Regions from separate parts of the Homo sapiens genome. Here region 1 is reported to be linked to region 2. Evidence: microRNA targets listed by miRTarBase, many of them from high-throughput screens and not tested one by one. Region 2 holds a microRNA gene; the other region holds the end of a gene's coding sequence.
The links. Region 2 holds the annotated microRNA hsa-miR-513a-5p (UUCACAGGGAGGUGUCAU, at 3,178-3,195, shown strand). A microRNA usually pairs through its seed, bases 2 to 8, with sites in the 3' UTR of a target mRNA and lowers its output. Matches are read on the target gene's strand: a 7mer-m8 pairs with bases 2 to 8, a 7mer-A1 pairs with bases 2 to 7 and ends in A, and an 8mer does both.

Region 1 (9,308 bases), not on the chromosome of region 2:
AGCACGTGGGGCCAGGTGAGTGGGGGCCTCCTCTAGGGTGAGTGTCCCCACAGCTCTGACCTGGCCTGGAAGCCCCAGCAGGCCCTGAGAGGCCACATGCAGTCACCGTCCAGTATCTGATGAGTCTCCTTCCTCCCTGCGACACTGTAGGCTGTCTCAGCATTTCTGGCTTGTTGAGTTTCCCTAGAGTTTTCTCATCTCTCAGTTTAAAAAGCAGGGTTTCCTTTGGGAACTTTGTGGAAGAACCTTTAAGCAGAATGGAGGCCCTGGCCACCTCCCTGTTTGTCCTCTGAGTTTCGGGTTGGAAATTCTAGGACACTTAGAATTGTTGCAGAATGGTCCTTAGGTCCTTTGAGGATTATTTAAAATCTTGCTTAGATAAAAAGCAAATGGTTTGGAAGCCAGAGTGGTTATTGTGGCAGCATCGTGTCACCTATAAGACCCAAGGTAGAATGTGGAGATGTCTGGAGGTCAGGTCCTGGGGTCCTGCCCCAGGTCCCGCCCCAGCTCTACCACTGAGAGCTTCCACAAGGCCCTGTCCTCTCAGGCCACCCCACTGAGAACTAGCAGGCAGCAAAGGCAGGCATACCCTGGGGGGCTGGTATCGGGCCCTGGTTCTCCTCTTCTGGGTCCCAGGATCTGCAGACTCGAATGTCCCTGGTGTGGTTTGCACCGTCTGCCCTTTCAAATGCCCTCCCAGGCAGGTGCCTCCAGGGGCAGCGTGGCTCAGCCCTGCTGGTTTTTGCAGGTGTCCTGTCCATGGCTAATGCTGGTCCTAACACCAACGGCTCCCAGTTCTTCATCTGCACCATAAAGACAGACTGGTGAGTTCCCTGCCCCAGGCCCTCTGGGAATGCGGGCAGCCTTGCAGCTGGAGGAGGATTCGTGCACTTTTAGGGGCAGGCAGTTTACAGCCAGGCCTTCTGCTCTGGGACAGTGGCCCTCTCCCAGGCTGTGTGTTTGTATGAGAAAGAGAAAGTTAGTGGAAGGATCAAGGGAGAATTGGGGTTGTTCCTGCAACTCTGTCATGGTTCGGGTTCCCATTGTTGCTGTCACCTGGAATTTTCTGAGTGTGTTCTGCTCACACGCACACACGAAAGGGTTTCTCTACCAGATACATTTGGGAAATGTTGCAAAACATATTATGAGGCCTCAGGAGGGACTGAGTAGAAGCCCACTTGTGTGGTTTTAACCTGGAGTTTCCCAGGCTTGTCTTGACCATGGGCTGAGCCTTGGCAATGCTGCAGCAGACATTTGGATATCAGCAAATTTCCAAATGAAGCCTCTGTATTATCATAAACCTGCAGATAGCCACAGGCCTGTAAGGGCCCTGTTTTCAATGCCCATGGATTTTAGGGATGTCTCTTTCCTGGTACATTTTCCTCTAAGGGATAAATTTCTCTGGCCAGAGTCCCAAATGTCCTAGCCCTGGGGCACCTGGGGATGAACTGGCTGGGAGCTGACTTGGTAAAGCCCATTTCCGAGGATTTTAGGGAGACCTAGGTGGGGCAGACACTAGAAGTGTCCAGCCTCCAAGCCCAAGAGATGTGGCCGGCAGGGCTGGGCAGGTCCTTGCTGGCTCAGCCTGCTCTTTGCTCCTTCATGGGACCCCAGTGGATCCTGCAGTTCTGCTCTTGGCTGGAACCACGCCAGCTTCGCTGGAGCTGGACTGAGCCGCCTTTTACATTATTGGACTCTCTCGGGTTGAGAGCTGCCCAGGACTCCTGCAGTTTCACCACCCTTGTTCCTTTGACTCTTGACTCATCATTCATGACCGTTAACGTGGTTCCATTTGTATGGACTTCTTCTTTCTTCAGAGCATTTCAGTATCCTGTTACCTCCCCATGCAGAACAAAGAATACTCCACTTTTGATAGATGGGGTTACCAGGATTCAGGCTACATGGCCTGAGGCAAGGTCACAACATGAGTGACAGAATGTGTCCTGGAAGCCAGGCATCCTCTGGGGTGTATTTGGGGCGCTCAACAAGGCTTGATCGAGCTTTGGGGGTAGATCTAGCTATTCCATGGGGATTCTTTTCAGAATTGCTGTTTTCGGTAACTAATTCCATGACCAGGTCCATGGCATTGGATGACATTGCGCTACACTGTTGCTCACCCGGGTCACCCGTCCTCACAGGTTGGATGGCAAGCATGTTGTGTTCGGTCACGTCAAAGAGGGCATGGACGTCGTGAAGAAAATAGAATCTTTCGGCTCTAAGAGTGGGAGGACATCCAAGAAGATTGTCATCACAGACTGTGGCCAGTTGAGCTAATCTGTGGCCAGGGTGCTGGCATGGTGGCAGCTGCAAATGTCCATGCACCCAGGTGGCCGCGTTGGGCTGTCAGCCAAGGTGCCTGAAACGATACGTGTGCCCACTCCACTGTCACAGTGTGCCTGAGGAAGGCTGCTAGGGATGTTAGACCTCGGCCAGGACCCACCACATTGCTTCCTAATACCCACCCTTCCTCACGACCTCATTTCTGGGCATCTTTGTGGACATGATGTCACCCACCCCTTGTCAAGCATTGCCTGTGATTGCCCAGCCCAGATTCATCTGTGCCTTGGACATGGTGATGGTGATGGGTTGCCATCCAAGTGAAAGTCTTTTCCTTGACCAAGGGGGACAGTCAGTTTTGCAAAAGGACTCTAATACCTGTTTAATATTGTCTTCCTAATTGGGATAATTTAATTAACAAGATTGACTAGAAGTGAAACTGCAACACTAACTTCCCCGTGCTGTGGTGTGACCTGAGTTGGTGACACAGGCCACAGACCCCAGAGCTTGGCTTTTGAAACACAACTCAGGGCTTTTGTGAAGGTTCCCCCGCTGAGATCTTTCCTCCTGGTTACTGTGAAGCCTGTTGGTTTGCTGCTGTCGTTTTTGAGGAGGGCCCATGGGGGTAGGAGCAGTTGAACCTGGGAACAAACCTCACTTGAGCTGTGCCTAGACAATGTGAATTCCTGTGTTGCTAACAGAAGTGGCCTGTAAGCTCCTGTGCTCCGGAGGGAAGCATTTCCTGGTAGGCTTTGATTTTTCTGTGTGTTAAAGAAATTCAATCTACTCATGATGTGTTATGCATAAAACATTTCTGGAACATGGATTTGTGTTCACCTTAAATGTGAAAATAAATCCTATTTTCTATGGAAGACTGGTACCTGGTTTCTGGAAGAGGGGTCTGTGACTTGGAGCTGATCTTTACTGAGCTCGCCGTGGCAGATGCCATGCTCAGGACGTTCATGTGGATGGTTTCATGTCATCGTGCTGGCAACTTGTCCTCCCTGCCTTAGAGATGAGGCTCAGACAAACGACCTTAGCACCCATAGCCTATGCCATGAGCACTGGCTCCACCCTGAATCCCAGCTCCTCCCCTTAGTGACCCCAAGTCTGTTTCCCTCAGCTGCATAAGGAGGCGATATAGTTTGAATATTTGTCCCCAGCCAAATCTCATGTTGAACTGTAATCCCCAGTGCTGGAGGTGGGGCCTGCTACGAGGTGTTTGGATCATGGGGACGGGTATTTCATGGCTTGGTGCTGTTTTCTTGATGGTGAATTATTGCAAGATACGGTCATTTAAAATTGTGTGGCACCTCCCCCTGCCCCCTTCTTGCTCCTGCTTTCACCATGTGACATGCCTGATCCCCCTTCACCTTTTGCCATGGTCATAAGCTTCCTGAGGCCTCCCTGGAAGCTGAGCAGATGCCAGCACCATGCTTCCTGTACATCCTGCAGAACCATAAGCCAATTAAACCTTTTTAATAATAAATTACTCAGTCTCAAGTATTTTTTTATAGCAATACAAGAATCCTAACACGGGTTAACAATAAGGCCCACCTCGTAGGGTGGTGATCCACGTGAAGTGCATAACGCAGTGTCTGGCGCACCTTCCTAAGCACTCTGGAGTGACAAGGATGATGACCTTTCCCCTGTCAGGGTCTTAGGAAGGAGGAGGGATGCCAGAGCAAAGGAGCCTCCATCATCTGAGGTTAGGAGTGGACTTCCTAGGATAAGCCAGTTCCATTTGGAATTGACTTCTAGGTGTTTCCAAATTCACAGGGAAGGCAGGATTGGAGGTAAGAGCTTCCCTAGGTAGACAGGGCTGTGGTGTGGCCCGGCAGTTGAGTGGTCAGGCAGGCAGTTCTCAGAGGAAATTTGGGCCCTTTTGAGGGCATCTAACAGAATTATTTCTCACTGGGGTTCCCTGAGTGAGGTTATGTGTAGTCTTAGGTTAATGGAGTCACTCTGAGGTCATGGTGACTGGGGTCGGGTCATTTGGAGTCATGGAGAGTTCCCATGAAGTCAGTTTCAGTAGGACAAGTAGTCTTAAAACAATTATCAAGAGCGTTAAGAGTCCTCAAAGCAGACAAGGAGGACACAAGGAGCATGGGCCCCTGAACCCCATTTGCAGTCATAGATGCCCTCCATTTATATTGGGGTTCTGTAAGGGATTTCATTTGAAGAATAGGATCTTGAGCCAAATCATAATTAGTAATTTCTCATCCAGTCCAACACTTTACAGATGGGTAAACTGAGACCCCAAGAGGGATTATGATTGTCCCATGTGACCCTGTGAATCAATTGGCAAAACGGGCTAGAATCCAGGGTTTTTGGCAGTCTGCAGGGATTTCTGTTGGGGGCCTTCGAGAATGCACAGGTGCCTTGGGGGACATATTGCCAAAGGTTCTCAGGCCACACACATTCAGAGCACAACTGATCTCTGAGGTCAAAGCCCACAGCTTCACTCCCTCTGGAGTTTCCTCTTTTGGGGCTTATGTTTAGTCATTGTGTTTCCTTCTTGCTGAGGAGAGTGTGTGTGTGTGCACGCGTGTATGTGTGTGTGTCTATGTGTGTGTATCTCCACCCAGAGAAGTCTAAGGTGAGGTGAGGGTGCACCAAACATGCAGGAATCTCCTAAAAACCGAGTTCCCTGAAAGCAGGGCCGTTCCCTGTGCTGCTCATTCCCTGAGCTCCCTGCACAAAGGCCTGAGCCTAGTCATATTTCTTGCATAAAGCAAGAACATAAGTAATATACAAATAAAATACTGGCTTGTTTCTGGCCAGTGAGCACTCAATACCTCATGCATAAATGAGGCAGTGAGTCTTACACATGCACTCATAGATGTAATCATAAGTGGTGCCATGTACACACGATTTTTAAAAAAAATCTGAAACATCAATTTTATTTTCTGTGATGTGATAGCTTTTCAAAATGATTTCATTGAGGTATATTTACGTACAAGAAAAGTCACTTCAAGTGTACACATCAATGACTTTTGACAAAAGCATATACTAGTAATATCTATCACCAAATTAAGATACAGAATGTTTCCGTCTTTCCAGAAAGTTCTCTCTGTGCCCCTTCCCAGGCAGCCACTGGATCTTATCCCTGTAATTTTGCCTGTTCTAGAACTTTGTAGAAATGGTATTGAGCAGGGTTCACTTTTTCATGTCTGGCTTCTCCAGTGTGGCATGTGTGAGAATGTGTGAGGCTCTAATATGCTTCTGGGTTCTAAAGAATCTTGCTCCATGAAAAGGAATTTCTTAAAGGTTTCGTAGGTCTGGGAAGGCCTAAAGCAATGCTTCTAGGAATCACAGAGTGCCAGTAAATCATGCAGATTTCTGGCCATACCTGAGACGCCTTTTGAATATTTGCATCTAGGAATCTGAATTTTAAAATAATAATTCTGAGAGGTGAAGCCAGCTGGACATCCCTTGGGGAACTTTCCTGTCTTACAAGAGGATTGTAAAATGCACCAATCAGCGCTCTGTAAAATGCACCAATCAGCACTCTGTAAAACGGACCAATCAGCAGGATTCTGAAAGTAGCCATTCGTGGGGAGGACTGAAAAAAGGCACTCTGATAGGACAGAAATGGAACATGGGCGGGGACAAATAAGGGAATAAAAGTTGGCTATCCCAACCAGCAGCCGCAACTGGCTCGGGTCTCTTTCCGTGTTGTGGAAACTTTGTCCTTTCCCTCTTCACAATAAACCTTGCTACCGCTCACTTGTGCCATCTTTAAGAGCTGTAACACTCACCGTGAAGGGCCGTGGCTCCATTCTCGAAGTCAACGAGACCATGAACTCTCCGGCAGGAAGCAATTCCGGAGACAAATCTGATAAAGCTTAAGAATTTGAGTGTAGCCACAGTGGGTAAGAGTGAAAGGGAAGGTCATGGCTCAACACTAGAGTCATCATTTACTTCTGGAAACATTTTTTACTGGACTTTCTGGGACTCTAGTGTGACACCCTCCACTTTTAAAAGAAGCCTCACTTAAGGAGTCTGACCGACAAGTCTCGGATGACTGGGTGGGGCACATCCTATTCCACTCAAGCTCTGTGGAGGCCAGTGGGCAGGGGAGCTCCTCGATAGCGCTGGTCAAAGTGGCCAGCCAGGCATGGTGGCTCATGCCTGTAATCCCAGCACTTTGGGAAGCAGAGGTGAACGGATTGCTTGAGCCCAGGGGTTTCAGACCAGCCTGGTCAACATAGTGAGATCGCATCTCTACAAAAAAAAAAAAAAAAAAAAAAAAAAAAAAAAAAATTAAAACTTAGCTGGGCTTGGTGACATGTGCCTGTGGTCCCAGCTACTCGGGAGGCTGAGGTAAGAGGATCACTTGAGCCCAGGAGCCGGAGGCTGCAGTGAGCCATGATCATGCCACGGGACTGCAGTCTGGGTGACAGAGCAACACGCTGTCTCAAAAAGAGAAAAGAAAAAGTGGCTCCCCCTGTCTTTGCCTATGCAGGAGCCTGTGAAGGAAGAAGCTCCTAGAGGGGTGGAGGCCCCAGCTCTTGTTTTGTCATCTAGGAGGAGGGGCTGCCTTGGGTGGGTCTTGGATGGAGTGCATTTCTCAGTGAGTGGATTGCGGAGGCCAGAAGTCAGCTCTATGTCCAAGATTCTTCAGAATATGGCAGGTAGAGAAAGTCTTGGGTCCATTCTGCCTCCCAGATCACCCAGCCTGTAGAGGCTGTCCAGAATTATGCTGATAACATTATTGCTATTCTATCATATTGTGATCGTTAATTTTATGGGTCAATTTTTTTTTTTTGAGATGGGGTCTCACTCTGTCACCCATGCCGGAGTGCAGTGGCACAATCATAGCTTGCTGTAACCTCAAACTCCTAGGCTCAAGCAATCCTTCCACCTCAGCACCCTGAGTAGCTGGGACTACAGGCACGTGCCACCATGCTTGGCTATTTATTTTTTATTTTTTTAAAAGATGCGGGTCTTGCTGTATTTCCCAGGCCAGTCTCTCCTGGCCCCAAGTGGTCCTCCCACTTCAAATTCCTAAAATGTTGAGATTATAGGTGTCAGGCACCACACCCAGCCTTATGTGTCAACCTAACTGGGTCACAGAGTGCTTACACATTGGGTCAGACACTATTCTGGGTGTGTCTGTGAGGGTGTTTCTGTCTAAGATTAATATTTGCATAGCTAGACCGAGTAAAGCAGGTGGTTCTCCCTCGTGTGGGTGGACTTCGTCCAGTCAACTGAAGACCTGAATAGAACAAAAGGCTAAGAGGGAACGCCTCCTGCCTGACGGTCCTCAGCTGGAACATTGGTATTTTCTGCCTTTGGACTCAAACTGAAATGTTGGCTGTCTCAGGGTCTTGAGCCTGCCAGCCTTCAGACTGGAACCTACATTGGCTCTTCTGGTTCTCAGGCCTTCAGACTCGGACTGGACCTACACCATTGGCTCTCCTGGGTCTCCAGCCCGCCAACTACAGGTGGTGGGTCTTCTCAGCCCCCATGATCACATGAGCCAATTCCTTATGTTTTTGTATCATATATATCTTATGTATATGGTATAAATATATACACACACACACACACACACACATATATATTCTACTGATTCTGTTTCTCTTACACATATTGTCTTTTTTCTATTTATAAAACCAAAATGCACATGTAAAAATTCAAATGTTACATAATTATATAATATAGAGAATTAGCATTGCCTACAATCCTATTACAGTAATAGTTGGTATAGGTTTCTGCATTTGCTTAGCTGCAAAGACCACCACTCCTTTCCTAACAATGAGAAGAAGTTGAATAAACTACAAAATCGTAACTTTTCTTGAGCTCACCAGAAAGGCAACCAAATAACCTGAGTTTCAAAGAGGAACAAAGCGGCCAGTCGCCGTGGCTCACGCCTGTAATCCCAGCACTTTGGGAGGCCAAGGTGGGCGGATCACCTGAGGTCAGGAGTTGGAGACCAGCCTGGCCAACGTGGTGAAACCCTGTCTCTACTAAAAATAAAAAAAAAATAGCCGAGCATGGTGGTGCATGCCTGTAATCTCAGCTACTCTGGAGACTGAGGCAGGAGAATCACTTGAACCGGGAGGCGGAGGTTGCAATGAGCCGAGATTGCACCACTGCACTCTAGCCTGGGCAACAGAGTGAGACTCCATCTCAAAAAAAAAAAAAAAAAAAAGAGGAACAAGGCCCTGCAAGGAGAGACAGGACACACAGTTTCACCTGTGGCAGAGCACTGTAGGAAGATATGACCATGAAACAACTGTGTAAAATAAAATAAAATTAGGTAAGCCTTTTAATGAATTGCTAAAGGCCAAGAGGGGGCTAATGTGTCCATCTGGAGTAGCTGGGGACCCCAGATGCAAAGGGAGTTCAACATCTTTCTCCAGGCTCCCACCAGATGCACAGAAGACCTAAGAGGTAGCCCAACTTGGTGGTTCAGGTCTGCAGGAGGGGACCTTCAGCTGCTGGAGAAAGGCACGGAGCCTCGTCCACTTCCTCAGGTTCTTCTCTCCAATGAAGTAAATTTGAGAATCCACTGGGAGGTTGGGCATTACACCATCCACCCCCAGGAACATGTAAAAGTGCACTGTGGCTGGGGGAAGTAGAACACACATCCTTTTATCCCTGTGGGAGGGGTAAGAAGCCATCCAGGGCCCAGGATCCTTTAGCGATACCAACCAGAAATTGACTACCTCTGGTGGAAGAGGGAGCAAGAAACAGCCAAGACATGCCTAAGACTAAGGCGGGATGAGGACAGCAGAAAAGCCTCCTGCCTTACTATGAGCCTGGTCTACCAGTGGGGGAGGGCGGGGCATGGAGAGAGACACCCTCCGTATTGCAGAAAGCTGAGTGTGGAGTCTAAACAATCCTTTGGCACCCCAGCTCCACTGTAAGCACAAGTCAACAGTAATCCACCACTTAAGGAATTTGAAGCCTATGGAGCTCTGAAAGCAAGAATAGCAACACAAACCCCAAATCCAGCTCAACCCCTGAGGCGACTAACTCAATTTCCCACAATAATGGCCTGAAAGAATCAGTGGCATGCC
Region 2 (9,308 bases):
TTTAATAAGATACAACTACCATTTATACAACCCAGAATTCATGAACCACTTCACCAGAAGAGGAGATAAAGTCCTGGAGTGTTGTTTGTTTACTCTTCTCCTTGGTGTTCCATAACATCAATACTATGATTATTTAAAGTTAACAACGGTTAATAACTATGATATAATATCAGTACACCTTACGTTACATGATAAGGGGATAAGAGAGACAAGAAAACACAGAAGTATATTAATAAAAATATAAGTAGAAAATACTCATGGGAACTACAATTCTCATTTCTGTAACTGTCATCTGGTGTTAGCTGGTATTTACAACTACTTTTCTTCACTACCCATTTTGTATTCCCTTTGCCTTCAGCAAGCACCTCAGCCATTATATTTTACCTGGTAGAGTGACCCAAACTTTCATTTCTGAAGGGTCTGGGCCATTAGTAGTCCTGCCAGGATTGGGTTGTTGTAGTTTTCTACTGACCTTAATCACAAGGCATAGTAATACTAAGAGACATCTTATGTATTTCAGAAATATTCTTCCTTACCTCCATTGTGGAGTAGTACTCCAATTTTCCCTTGGTAGTCAGAATCACCTGCTCCAGGCCACACAGTAACTCCCTTCTCTGACCTCTTAAAAAATTAGGAAATATTGTATTGACTTTTCTCTTTCCGTGTTTTCAAGATATCTCTTCTTAAACTATGGCTGTTACGAGAGAAAGAGAAAGAGAAAGAGAAAGACAATCAAGCAGAGCCAGACTGAAAGAGACAGACAGACACGACTGGAGCAGTGAGTCTTTTACACTTCTGTGCTGAAAAATGTGAGAGAGCTTGATGCCTCCTTTCAGGTAAACCCTATCAAATTATAGTCAAGTGTTGGCAAATATGGGTTGTGTAATTTGAGTTTGTTTCCCATCTCCAAACAACCACATGCCCCTCCCCAACTCAAGAACTTGATGGGAAATGTAGGTTACAATGAAATAGAAGAAAACTACTCTACTTTCTTTCCTAATAGTATTACCATTCAACTACATGTGGCTACCCTTCATCGTATCTATTTCCATCCTTCTTGCACTCATAGGATTTCCTTGGGCTTTGAGGCTCAGATACCCTGATATATTTGTTGGTGATTGTGAGTTTTTAGCATGTGTTCTAGCACATTTGTTTGTGTTTATATGGTGATGGGGGGAGTAATACATGTATCTGTGTGCACTTTGGTGTATGTGCCCATACATTTGTGTGTGCACGGGGCATGTAGCATGAGGATTTTGTTATGTTGTTTTTGTTTGAGGTTGGATCTCTGTTTTGTTTTTGTTTTGCTTTTGCTATTCTTATCAGTTTATTTCATGTGTATGGTTTTGCTTTGTTTGTTTGACTTTGGCTCCTTTGGGATTATATGTGTTTGTTTGAATTTGTTTTCAGATTTGCCATGCTCTTGGTCATTGGTGTTTTGATTGGTATTTCTTTACGTACATTGCTTGCAATTTTGTATTTTCTTTTTGTTGTTATTTGGATTTCACTGTGTGATTTCGGTTATATTTTAATTTGCATATTAATTTGCACATATGTTGTTGGAACTTTGCATTGTGTATTGCTAGGGTTCTTTCGATGGCTTATCAATTCTGTTTATGGTTAGTTTTTTTGTATTCATATTTTGTTGTATTCTCATTCTTTTTAATATTGTTTACTTGGGCGTATATGTGTCTGTGTATGTGGTTTCATGGAGCAGTGGGTCTTAGAATCTCCTGCTATGATGTGCCAGGTTGCTGGAAAGACTCCTTTGAAGCTACTGAGGGGTGGGTGATGCAGAGGAAGAGAAGTAGTACCTGTACTGGTGTTTGAAGGAGGGAGTATTGTGTCTGTGTATTTTTTTCCCCTTGAGAACTTTTTGGGGAGATAGCTCAAGGGCCCAAATACTTAAGAGAAAAGCTAAATTGATTGATTGATTGATTGATATATATAAATATTTCTGTAGAATCTAACTTTGGTTGCTTTTCATGGAATTCAAAAAATGCAGTAAAATGCTTGAGATATTTAGAATCATTCTGTTCAGTGAACTATGGCTCCTTGACCGTGACTCAGCACTAACACTGAGCTATGTGCTTCTCTGTCTGTCTTTCAGGGGTTATGTTTAGTAGATGAATGAGAATGGTACATAGAAACACTCGGTCTTGACGATCATGTGGTCTGACTTCTACATGCTATCAAGGGCCAGAGCTAGAAGAATCCAGGTCTTTTAATTTGCCTCAGCTCATGATTATTTGTGTACATCACACACACACACACACACACACACACACACACACACACACACACATATATATATATATAGTTTTTTTTTGTTTTTTTTTTTTGAGAAAGAGTCTAACTAACTCTGTTGCCCAGGCTGGGGTGCAGTGGCATGATCTCGGCTCACTGCAACCTCCACCTCCCGGGTTCAAGTGATTCAGTGGCATGATCTCGGCTCACTGCAACCTCCACCTCCCGGGTTCAAGTGATTCTCCTGCCTCAGCAGCTGCGGTTACAGTTGCCCACCACCACACCCGGCTAATTTTTTGTATTTGTAGTAGAGATGGAATTTCACCACGTTGTCCAGGCTGGTCTCAAAATCCTGACCTCTGATGATCCACCAGCCTCAGCCTACCAGAGTGATGAGATTATATGTGTGACCCACTGCACCTGGCCTGATATTGAGGATTTTTAATGAGACAAGCAAATTAACGCGAAAACTAATGGGATAATCCAGACAAGGATTACACATCTCTGGGGAAGAGATGAAGTGAAATGTTATATTCTGGCTAAGCCTAAAATTTGTGTGTTAATTAGCCATTCGCGGTGGTATGTGCCTTTAATCCCAGCTACTTGGGAGGCTGAGGCAGGAGAAGTGCTTAGACACAGAAGGGGGAGGTTGCAGTGAGCCGAGATCACACCAATGCATGCCAGTCTGGGCGACAGAGCCAGACTTCATCTGAAAACAAAAACAAAAACAAAACAAAAATCTGCATGTTAAAATCTCACTTGGGGCAGGATGAAAAGGGGAGCGCCGGGGGCTACAAGTTGCATTGTCCCTTGGCATAAATCTTGGTGGCCATGCCAAGGCATACACCTATAGGGACTTGAAAAAAAACGGCATGAATAGGGAGCATTTGTTCTTGGATGCCACATTCAGCCATTCAGTGTGCAGTGCCTTTCACAGGGAGGTGTCATTTATGTGAACTAAAATATAAATTTCACCTTTCTGAGAAGGGTAATGTACAGCATGCACTGCATATGTGGTGTCCCTGAGGATGGGGGTGTAGCTGCGAGCATGGTGATGCCTGTTTTGCATCCTGTGCACCCACTCTTCAGTGCTGGGCTACTTCAGGGAACTTTTTGTGCCTTCTAAATGACTATACATAGGAACTGTGGACTCCTGAGAAAACGCATGCACTTCGGTTCCTTAAGAATTTATCTATTTTTGCCAAATGAGGCTTGGCTCAAATAAGAAATACATTGGATAGAGGCCACAGCCATTCTTCGTCAGCTGGAAGGCTATATTCCAGATTCCTAAACTTTTCTCACTTATCAAGAAGTCATCATTTGCAAGGATTCTCCTTTAGCGCTCCCAAAAGACTCTCCTGCCTCTCAGGTCCCTTCATTGCTGATCCACAGTGTCCATTTTCTGTCAAAGACTAAAACATTTTCTCATAGACTTTTAAAATACCTTTCAAAGCCTTCAGTCACCAATTTATGGAGGGTTAAGCGTAGTCCACCCAAGAATATTTCACCCTTTTCCATTATCTTTTTTCCCTGTTTTTTATGTTTGAACAATGGAAGCGTATGATAGAGTTGTTACTCAAGAGATATCTCCTAGTCTTCTCTCCCCATTTTCTGTCTTTTTTTTTTTTGAGATGGAGTCTTTCTTACTCTTTCACACAGGCTGGAGTGCAGTGGCGCCATCTCAGCTCACTGCAACCTCTGTCTCCCGGGTTCAAGCGATTCTTCTGCCTCAGCCTCCCAAGTAGCTGGGATTACAGGCGTGCGCCAACACACCTGGCTAATTTTTGTATTTTTAGTAGAGACCAGGTTTCACCACGTTGGTCAGACTGGTGTCGAACTGCTGACCTCGTGATCCACCCACCTCACCCTCCCAAATTGCTGGGATTACAGGCGTGAACCACCATGCCCGGCCCCATTTTCTTGTGTTGACACTTCTTAACTCAACCTAATGGAGAGAGAAAGAGGCAAATACGCACGTGCACAAGAGTAAGACAAGTGCCAGATGGTGTGAGGCCATCTGCAGCATGAAACTAGTATGCATTTTTTAGAAGTAGGTTATATATAAATAAGCTACTTATATTGGGGAAATGTGTTTAAAAATGTTATAAATAGTAAGTGATTGATTAATACAATTTTGATTCCAACGGAAATAGAGGTTACAGCATATACACCGAAAGAGAGAAACTATAAAAAAACAATTACTATATGGTTACAGGCAGGATTTTAGTTTATGTTTGTTTTTTTAGGTTCAGAATGGATGAATATGTATAAGACCATTAATGTCTGGAAGTAAAAAAAATCAGTTGAAGTATCTTTTTCAATATTAAAACAATTGTACTAATAGAATATATAGAACTTTTTTCATTGGAGGCGGGGGGACATTCTGAATAATAAAAAAAAATTCTGTCCGTTGGAAATACTGTATGTGTGTAGAAATTTCCAAAGTGATAACTCTTTTTAGCATATAATTTCTAAAACTGTATTAGAGAGAATTCATGTGTACTTAAATAAGTGATATCGTAAAATGAAACAAAGACAGAGAATTTAGTTATATCTCTTTTAGGATTTCTCAAAAAGAGTACTATCTCTTTTAGGATTTCTCAAAAAGAGTACTATATTCACTGGTATTTATGGTTTTTCTTTCAGTGAAATACTTTTTTGTATAAGAATGCTTGTGATTTTTGTACATTGATTTTGTATCCTGAGACTTTGCCGAAGTTGCTTATCAGCTTAAGGAGATTTTGGGCTGAGACAATGGGGTTTTCTAGATATACAGTCATGTCGTCTGCAAACAGGGACAATTTGACTTCCTCTTTTCCTAATTGAATACCCTTTATTTCCTTCTCCTGCCTGGTTGCCCTGGCCAGAACTTCCAACACTATCTTGAATAGGAGTGGTGAGAGAGGGCATCCCTGTCTTGTGCCAGTTTTCAAAGGGAATGCTTCCACTTTTTGCCCATTCAGTATGATATTGGCTGTGGGTTTGTCATAGATAGCTCTTATTATTTTGAAATACGTCCCATCAATACCTAATTTATTGAGAGTTTTTAGCATGAAGGGTTGTTGAATTTTGTCAAAGGCTTTTTCTGCATCTATTGAGATAATCATGTGGTTTTTGTCTTTGGCTCCGTTTATATGCTGGATTACATTTATTGATTTGCGTATATTGAACCAGCCTTGCATCCCAGGGATGAAGCCCACTCGATCATGGTGGATAAGCTTTTTGATGTTCTGCTGGATTCGTTTTGCCAGTATTTTATTGAGGATTTTTGCATCAATGATCATCAAGGATATTGGTCTAAAATTCTCTTTTTTGGTTGTGTCTCTGCCCGGCTTTGGTATCAGAATGATGCTGGCCTCATACAATGAGTTAGGGAGGATTCCCTCTTTTTCTATTGATTGGAATAGTTTCAGAAGGAATGGTACCAGTTCCTCCTTGTACCTCTGGTAGAATTCGGTTGTGAATCCATCTGGTCCTGGACTCTTTTTGGTTGGTAAACTATTGATTATTGCCACAATTTCAGCTCCTGTTAGTTATTGGTCTATTCAGAGATTCAACTTCTTCCTGGTGGTCTATTCAGAGATTCAACTTCTTCCTGGTTTAGTCTCGGGAGAGTGTATGTGTCGAGGAATGTGTCCATTTCTTCTAGATTTTCTAGTTTAGTTTATTTGCGTAGAGGCGTTTGTAGTGTTCTCTGATGGTAGTTTGTATTTCTGTGGGATGGGTGGTGATATCCCCTTTATCATTTTTTTATTGTGTCTATTTGATTCTTGTCTCTTTTTTTCTTTATTAGTCTTGCTAGTGGTCTATCAATTTTGCTGATCCTTTCAAAAAACCAGCTCCTGGATTCATTGATTTTTTGAAGGGTTTTTTGTGTCTCTATTTCCTTCAGTTCTGCTCTGATTTTAGTTATTTCTTGCCTTCTGCTAGCTTTTGAATGTGTTTGCTCTTGCTTTTCTAGTTCTTTTAATTGTGTTGTTAGGGTGTCAATTTTGGATCTTTCCTGCTTTCTCTTGTGGGCATTTAGTGCTATAAATTTCCCTCTACACACTGCTTTGAATGTGTCCCAGAGATTCTGGTATGTTGTGTCTTTGTTCTCGTTGGTTTCAAAGAACATCTTTATTTCTGCCTTCATTTCGTTATGTACCCAGTAGTCATCCAGGAGCAGGTTGTTCAGTTTCCATGTAGTTGAGCGGCTTTGAGTGAGATTCTTAATCCTGAGTTCTAGTTTGATTGCACTGTGGTCCGAGAGATAGTTTGTCATTCTTATACACCAACAACAGACAAACAGAGAGAGAGCCAAATCATGAGTGAACTCCCATTCACAATTGCTTCAAAGAGAATAAAATACCTAGGAATCCAACTTACAAGGGATGTGAAGGACCTCTTCAAGGAGAACTACAAACCACTGCTCAAGGAAATAAAAGAGGATACAAACAAATGGAAGAACATTCCATGCTCATGGGTAGGAAGAATCAATATCGTGAAAATGGCCATACTGCCCAAGGTAATTTACAGATTCAATGCCATCCCCATAAAGCTACCAATGACTTTCTTCACAGAACTGGAAAAAACTACTTTAAAGTTCATATGGAACCAAAAAAGAGCCCGCATCGCCAAGTCAATCCTAAGCCAAAAGAACAAAGCTGGAGGCTTCACACTACCTGACTTCAAACTATACTACAAGGCTACAGTAACCAAAACAGCATGGTACTGGTACCAAAACAGAGATCTAGATCAATGGAACAGAACAGAGCCCTCAGAAATAATGCCGCATATGCCGCATATCTACAACTATCTGATCTTTGACAAACCTGAGAAAAACAAGCAATGGGGAAAGGATTCCCTGTTTAATAAATGGTGCTGGGAAAACTGGCTAGCCATATGTAGAAAGCTGAAACTGGATCCCTTCCTTACACCTTATACAAAAATCAATTCAAGATGGATTAAAGATTTAAACGTTAGACCTAAAACCATAAAAACCCTAGAAGAAAACCTAGGCAATACCATTCAGGACATAGGCATGGGCAAGGACTTCATGTCTAAAACACCAAAAGCAATGGCAACAAAAGCCAAAATTGACAAATGGGATCTAATTAAACTAAAGAGCTTCTGCACAGCAAAAGAAACTACCATCAGAGTGAACAGGCAACCTACTCATCTGACAAAGGGCTAATATCCAGAATCTACAATGAACTCAAACAAATTTACAAGAAAAAAACAAACAACCCCATCAAAAAGTGGGCAAAGGACATGAACAGACACTTCTCAAAAGAAGACATTTATGCAGCCAAAAACACGTGAAAAAATGCTCACCATCACTGGCCATCAGAGAAATGCAAATGAAAACCACAATGAGATACCATCTCACACCAGTTAGAATGGCAATCATTAAAAAGTCAGGAAACAACAGGTGCTGGAGAGGATGTGGAGAAATAGGAACACTTTTACACTGTTGGTGGGACTGTAAACTAGTTCAACCATTGTGGAAGTCAGTGTGGCGATTCCTCAGGGATCTAGAACTAGAAATACCATTTGACCCAGCCATCCCATTACTGGGTATATACCCAAAGGACTATAAATCATGCTGCTATAAAGACACATGCACACGTATGTTTATTGCGGCATTATTCACAATAGCAAAGACTTGGAACCAACCCAAATGTCCAACAATGATAGACTGGATTAAGAGAATGTGGCACATATACACCATGGAATACTATGCAGCCATAAAAAAGGATGAGTTCATGTCCTTTGTAGGGACATGGATGAAATTTGGAAATCATCATTCTCCGTAAACTATCGCAAGAACAAAAAACCAAACACCGCATATTCTCACTCATAGGTGGGAATTGAACAATGAGATCACATGGACACAGGAAGGGGAATATCACACTCTGGGGACTGTGGTGGGGTGGGGGGAGGGATAGCAATGGGAGATATACCTAATGCTAGATGATGAGTTAGTGGGTGCAGCGCACCAGCATGGCACATGTATACATATGTAACTAACCTGCACAATGTGCACATGTACCCTAAAACTTAAAAAGTATAATAAAAAAATAATAACAAAAAAAAGAAATACTTTTTTGTATCATTCATCCGTGTTTCTACCAACTTTGTATATATTTAAGGTGTACAACATGATGTTTGGATATATGTATATATTATACAATGATTAAATCAAGCTAATTAAAACACAACATAAAATATTTAGGTGAAAGTCTAAATACAAATTACAAGATCTCTGTGGTATGCAGAATAACAAACAAACAGTCCCCCTCCAAAAGATGTTTACAGAGTAACCCCTGAACTCAAAAACATCACATTTTGTGGTAGAAAGAAATTTGTAGATATGATTAAATATTTTGAGATTGGGATTATCCTAGATTATCTAGGTGAGCCCAACATAATCACAGGGTTCCTTATAAGTAGAAGGAAGGTGGTTAGAATAAGAGAAACATTGGAAAAGGTATAAAGGCCATGAGCCAAAGAATGGAGGAAGCAAGTAGAATCTTCTAAAGACAATCAAGTAGATTCTCCTCTAGAGCCAACAGAAGGAACAAAGCCCTGCCAATGCCTTCATTTTAGCCGAGGTAAAGCTAATTTATATTATTTCTGACCTTTAGACTCTAACATAATAAATTTGTGTTGTTGTAAACAACTAAATTTGTGGCAATTTCTTACAGTATCAGTAGAAAACCAAAAACATCTGTAAATATACTAAGAGAATCAAATAATTACTAAGTAAGTGGAGAGGAGTATCATATTTATCGATTGAAGGATTCAAATCTATAAATTTACAGAGTTCTATTGCTCTATAGAGTTAATGAAATTCCAGCCAATGTCCTAGAAGGACATTTGTAGACATTAGCATGATGATTCTAAAACTGATATAAAAGCAAATAAACTAGAATATCCAAAACAAACAATCTGAAATATCCAAAACAAACAATCTGAAAGAGAATCACAAAGCTGGAGAATTTACACTTGTAATTTTCAGCTTTACTGTCTAACTAGATTAGCCAATATAGTGTGGTACTGAAGGATGGACAAATTGA

Region 1: the mRNA of PPIF is a reported target of hsa-miR-513a-5p. Seed matches in the 3' UTR shown: 7mer-m8 at 2,531-2,537 and 7mer-A1 at 2,852-2,858.

Annotation. Positions count from the first base shown.
Region 1 is chr10:79,351,569-79,360,876 of GRCh38, forward strand. It overlaps PPIF (peptidylprolyl isomerase F), which reads left to right. Exons shown (of 6, transcript NM_005729.4): 4 at 1-15; 5 at 749-824; 6 at 2,139-3,766. The coding sequence ends at 2,274. Among named protein-coding and RNA genes, the nearest start is that of PPIF, 8.8 kb to the left of the region's middle. RefSeq lists an enhancer at 152-652 and cis regulatory regions at 1,485-2,460, 1,492-2,446, 2,155-2,655, 2,453-2,953, 2,512-3,012 and 3 more.
Region 2 is chrX:147,219,787-147,229,094 of GRCh38, reverse strand. It overlaps MIR513A2 (microRNA 513a-2), which reads left to right and starts at 3,143; the gene lies at 3,143-3,269. All of the region lies in intron 2 of LOC105373347 (periphilin-1), which reads right to left.